Linked DNA regions of Homo sapiens: region 2 is linked to region 1. Evidence: fine-mapped expression QTL. Tissue or cell type: whole blood. Region 1 holds a variant in brackets; the other region holds the start of a gene. All regions are shown on one strand. Distances are from middle to middle. Region 1 overlaps LOC105373436 (a long non-coding RNA gene). Region 2 holds the start of TRIB2 (tribbles pseudokinase 2).

Region 1 (2,914 bases):
GCCCACTGACTCAAATGTTAATCTCTTTTGGAAACACCGTCACAGAAACACCCATAATCAATACTTTGCATCCTTCAATCCAATCAAGATGACACTCAGTATTAACCATCAGAGAGCTTAAGGGAATAAAACATGTGGGAAGAAGTTACTTCTCAACTTTCCAGAATAGCTCTTAGAAGTGTAGGAGAGATTGGAGTCTCTTAAGTAGGTAGACTAAATTGGCTTTAACAGGAGAAAAACAGGAGGTGGAAAATAGAGTAGAAATTCTGAGGTTATGTGTGGGACTACAGACTTGTGGCAGAGAAGAATCACATATTACCTGGAAATTGAGAGGGGTCCACCCACCAAGTGTGTGAATGCGCAGGAGGGTGTTTAGTTAGTTAGATTTCTAAAGCCTCGTTCTGCTCAATCCCATGGGATTAAAGCTGTGGGGCTGATCCCGTAGTGTATATCAAAGGATTAGGAGCCAAAGGGTAACACACAATGAAAAATAGATGATTTGAGTTTATCATTTGAACAAATAGAAAAAACATAATGCTTAAAAAAATTGAGAATTAAGATCCTGCAGAGGCACAGGGAATTATTAAGTGAAATTACACACTCTTTTATGTGGACTATGTAACTGATAAATTTATGTAGAAACAGATTATCATCAAAAGAAGAAATTATCATTCTAAAAATCTGAATAAAACAGCTCCACACAAGTATAAAGGGTGATTATTAAATAAGCTGTTCTAAACTAAACTAAAAATGCTTAATTTTGATTAATGAGTCAATCATGAAAGTTTTTTTCTGGTCAGCTGAATTCAAGGCTTGGGTATTTATCCCAACCTCTCTAAGCTCTATCTGAGCACAATTCTTTTGCCCCAAAATCTACAACTTAACGAGGGAGATGACATATTAATAGGAAACTGCAATTCAACTTAATAACAACTTTGATAAAAGGCATTATTGGTTACAATGAAAACACTGAAGGGCAATGAGTCCAATTTGATTGTTAGGTCAGAGTTTCTCAAAGAGGTTTCACATAAGCTGTATGATGAAAGATATATCATAACTGACAGCACAGAAAAAAAACAGATTGTTGGAAACAGTTAACTCAAAGTACTGATGGGGAGCATTCTTTTCCACTTTGTAAAAGTGCATGCATCCCCTGACAAAGGTTCCTACTGCAAGAGCTATCTCCAGCCAGGCAAACGGGATACAGGCGAAAAAGGATAAATAAACACCCCCAGCACTAACAGTGAGTCTGTTCTTCAAGAAGCGTTCATTATGTTAGAGCTGAGAGTAGAAAAACAGGGTTCACAGTTTTCCAAGTTCACAGGCTGCTGACTTGTTCGTCTTTGTTTTAGTCGGCGATCATAAGAATTCTATCAAATTCTACCCAGTGTAAACAGGAATCAAAATATGCCTAATATTGAAAGCATTTTTTAAAAAAATAAATTATTTAGGCCGGGTATGGTGGCTCATGCCTGTAATTCCGGCACTTTGGGAGGCCAAGATGGGCGGATCACTTGAGGTTGGGAGTTCGAGACCAGACTGACCAACATGGA[G/A]AAACCCCATCTCTACTAAAAACACGTAATTAGCCAGGCGTGGTGGCACATGCCTGTAATCCCAGCTACCCGGGGAGGTAGAGGCAGGAGAATCACTTGAACTCGGGAGGCAGAGGTTTCAGTGAGCCAAGATTGCACCATTGCACTCCAGCCAGGGCAACAGAGCAAGACTCCATCTCAAAAAATATATAAATAATAATAATAATGAAATAAAATAAAAAATAAATTATTTAAACTCAACCTAAGTAAACCAATTCTATAACATTTTCTGAACTATTAACTGTGCTGGCTTTGGAATGCGGAGGTCACAGAGCGTAGCAAAACCGCAGCTCCAGATTTCAGAGCATTTCCAAGTTATCCTTCTCTTTGGAGTGAGGACAATGATAATCGGGAAATGTTGAAGAAATAAGAAGAAGACAAGAAAACCACTGAATTCTCAAAGGGCTAACACAGAATTCTGAAAGGGCTAAAAAGTTTCATTTAAGAAGTAGCATTTGTATTAAATGTTACCAAAACATGTCTTATGTATTTTTGCTTAATGGATATTTGACGTCTATGCATTATGCAAATGTGGTCATGTGTGAACAGGAAGGAAATTTTCTTATTTGTGTCACAAGGAAATTCAGCCAATATTCACTTTAGTTATTTCAGAGCAACACTTGCAATCCTTCTAAATATGAAACACCAAATAATGTATGTATTTATTCCCATACTCTGAGGGAGACTGAATATGAATAATTGGGTCTCACATTGGAATAATTGAATTCTAAATTAAAAGAACTTTACAGTAATAAATGAGTCTAATAAAATAGTTATTTTGAACCATCTATTTTTAAAGAATGCTTGGGGTATTGCTGATATGTGTAACAGGAAGAACTTTTGAAATTTTGCCCAAGGCATAGGATTGTAATGATTTTTCAAGGACCTCAATATCCATAAACATTAATGATCCTATAGAACAGCCTGGACTCCTTAGTCCAGTCAAAAGATAATAGACTTTGTCTTCATAAGTATGAGTTTAAATGCATACACCTTCACTTACTAGCCTACTACTTTGGGCAATGTATTAACCTCTATGAGTCTCGTTCTTAAATTGTAAAAGGCACATAATATACATTGAAGGATTAATATGAAGACTATAAATAATATGTTACCACCATGTTCCTGACCCTGCCAGTGTGTATCAATATCACATTTTCTTTAATACTCTAATGATACTAGTTCTATCTTGCCAAATTAACAGAAACTCTAGTCTCTTTCCCAAAGCGCAATGCCCTCAATATTTCTGAGAATCCCTAAGTTTGCCTATACTTGTCCATACGTCAGACATTCTTATTGTTTCTTTGTTGCCACTTGTCAAA
Region 2 (2,914 bases), 320 kb before region 1:
AATTATTACAAAGCTCTCTTGGCCACTGCATAGAGGAGGCTAGGCACCTCTCTTTCTGACTCAACAGCAGGGGTTGCTTCGAGACTGTTCCTAACACAGGCCAAGTGTCTTCCTGGGGTAAGACTGGATTAGGGGACCCTGCTCGGTCAGTGGTCCTGGTGATCGCCTAGGGAAATAGATCTATTCTGCTGGGATCTGGGACTGAATCCTAGGCAGGTTTGTGGGGAGTAGGATGGTGAGAGGTGCTGGAAGGCACGGGTCCACTTCTTAACCTTCCTTTTAACTCTGTGCTGCTGGGTGGAAGCTTTATAGTCAATGTCCTCTCCATCTCTGGCCACATTCCCAGGACTCCTGATCATTAGAGTGACTGTTGTCCCAAGTGGACATAATTATAAATAGCTCCCTTCTTTTACTGAAAGTGTCCTACAGTGGACAATAATTTAGTCCCCTCCTCCAGTGGAAAATATACTACACGCATGCAAAAGCTCAGAGGGCTCCAGGAGTCGTCCCAACTCCCCTTTCTCAGTTCCTTGGGATTTTTTTTTTTAAGTTTGTCCTCTACTAGATCGCTTCTCATTCACCAGGATATCTTAGATCAAGGCTGGCGTTTGAAGCCTCTGCCTGAGTTCAAGCCCCTTGCTTCCGGTGTTCCTGTCCAAGCCCGCGGACTGGAATCTCCCAAGGAAGTTACGAATAATTCGGGGGGGGTGGCGAAATGGGGGGTGGAGTGGGGCGTGAAACTGCAGCCTTCACCTGGCTAACAGAAGAGGACTCAGGACGCCCAGCACCCTGGATAGGACCCAACAGCGCTCCCTGGAGGTGTGGGTGCAAAGTTTTGTCTAGCTTGGCCTCCAAGGCCCTCCAGGCAATGCACTGGGAAGGGAAGAATTAGTGATTAAATTTGACCTGAATCAAAAGATGCCTTCAGTTCCTCTTCTGCTGAAAACACTAGAAATACAAGCCCAGGATGTGGGGATCGGGGGCAAGCGGTGACACCAACTAAAAGGAAGCAATGGATTTCCTTTTAAATGGAGAGGAGGATGTCGGAGAGATACCATGAAACGAATTCTCGAAACTCCAGGCAGCAATACCGATGAAAGCGCATTCTTCCAAAACAGAGCTCCTCATTCAGGGCCACATCTGAGCCTGGGGGCCCAATGCTCAGAGCGTGCCTGGCTTTCTGGGGAAAAGCGCCAGGAACATGAACGAGCTACGAAGAGCTGGAGCGGGCGCTGCGGGAGCAGCGTGTGGGGAACGGCTCGGGAGTCGCTGCTGGTAACCCCGGCCCAGCCGCCCGCAGCTGGGCTCGCAGCCGGCTCGCAGCCGACACCCAGGGTGCTGCGCCCGGGGCCCCGGGCCGCGGAAGGATATTTCACTTTGTTTACCTCCCCGGCCGGGCGAGGGAGCTGCGAGGCCGGTGCTGGCGCCCCCGGCACGGAGCTGCAATGGCAGCGGCGCGGGGAGCCGCCCGAGGACTGGCAGCGGCGGGGCTGATTGATGGGCGCCCGGCGCAATGAGGGGGGCCCGGGCGGGGGCGGGGCGGGGCCGGCTCTGGGCTGAGCCAGTCGCGGGGGCGGCGGGGGGGGGGCGGAGGCTCCGTGGAAATGTGTCGGTGACATTGAATGGGGAGACCGAGCGCGAGCGAGGCGCGCGCGCGCACACGCGCACTCACGGCCCCGCTCGCTCCGAGATCCCCGGCCACGTAAGTAACTATTAATACCGCCTCGCCGGGGGATGCGGGCGTGCTGAGCGCGGGGATTGGCCTCGGGCACCGTCGGCCGTCCCCTTTAATTTTTAAATACACGGTCCCCTCTTTTCTCTGGGGGGGGCAAGCAAGAAATCAAAGAAGGAGGAGACAAGCCGTCAATTTTCTCCAAAACAAACCCCACCGGGCAATTTGGTCTCGGGGTAGGGGGAGACGGGGTGATTGCAAATTATTCCAGGACGAGATCCAGTTCTCCAGCGGGAAAGGGGCAAAGGAACGCCGCGCGTTGGAAGGGCCAGGGACGCAGCTCCCCTTGCAGCGCCCGCAGGACCCCCGCAAGCTCGTGCCGGCGAAATCGGAGACCGCCGATCTGTCCTCGTTCTCTCCTGCACGTCTGGCTGCATTCGGAGGAAGACCTGGGGCGCGAGCGAGCGGCGACAGCATGAGCCTGTGCTGACCTCCGCGCGGCGGGCCGAGCCCAGGGCTTTGTCGCGGTACCTGCGCCCAGCCCGCGCCGCAACTCTGTGCCCAGCTTTTGCAATCTTTTGTTGGCAGCGCTGACCGCACCAAGTTAAATGCTCCCTTGCAATTTTTCTTTTTTTTGTTTGTTTGTTTAATTTTTGGAGAGCTCGCGATCTTGGAAAAGCCTCAGACGCCATCTACAGTTAAAACGTAGGTAACTGCCCTCTCCCGCACCCCCCCCTTACACGCCCCCCACCCTTTCCACCAAAAAAAGGGGGTGCAGCGCGGATTCTGGCTGCCGTGCGTCGCCAGCCGGTAGACCCGTGCTTGTTTCCTTTCTCTTTTTGTTTGGCTTCTAACGCGTTGGGACTGAGTCGCCGCCGTGAGCTCCCCGAAGACTGCACAAACTACCGCGGGCTCCTCCGCCCCGTCTGCGATTCGGAAGCCGGCCTGGGGGTCGCGTCGGGAGCCCTGGCGCTGCAGCTCCGCACCTTAGCAGCCCGGGTACTCATCCAGATCCACGCCGGGGACACACACACAGAGTAACTAAAAGTGCGGCGATTCTGCACATCGCCGACTGCTTTGGGGTAACAAAAAGACCCGAGTTGCCTGCCGACCGAGGACCCCCGGGAGCCGGGCTCGGAGCAGACGAGGTATCCGGCGGCGCCCATTTGGGGGCTTCTAACTCTTTCTCCACGCAGCCCCTCTTCTGTCCCCTCCCCTCTCGCTCCCTTTTAAAATCAGTGG

Evidence for each region.
Region 2: TRIB2 starts here. The variant in region 1 is fine-mapped to the expression of TRIB2 in whole blood (Lepik 2017, PIP 0.95).

What each region holds. Positions count from the first base shown.
Region 1 is chr2:13,035,731-13,038,644 of GRCh38, forward strand. All of the region lies in intron 1 of LOC105373436 (a long non-coding RNA gene), which reads left to right. Among named protein-coding and RNA genes, the nearest start is that of MIR3125, 300 kb to the left of the region's middle. The variant G/A (reference allele first, on the strand shown) is at 1,554.
Region 2 is chr2:12,715,309-12,718,222 of GRCh38, forward strand. TRIB2 (tribbles pseudokinase 2) reads left to right here and starts at 1,628. Exons shown (of 3, transcript NM_021643.4): 1 at 1,628-2,914. LOC124905974 (a long non-coding RNA gene) reads right to left here and starts at 1,450. Exons shown (of 2, transcript XR_007086222.1): 1 at 1-1,450. RefSeq lists silencers at 1,216-1,435, 1,526-1,585 and enhancers at 1,538-2,177, 2,026-2,095.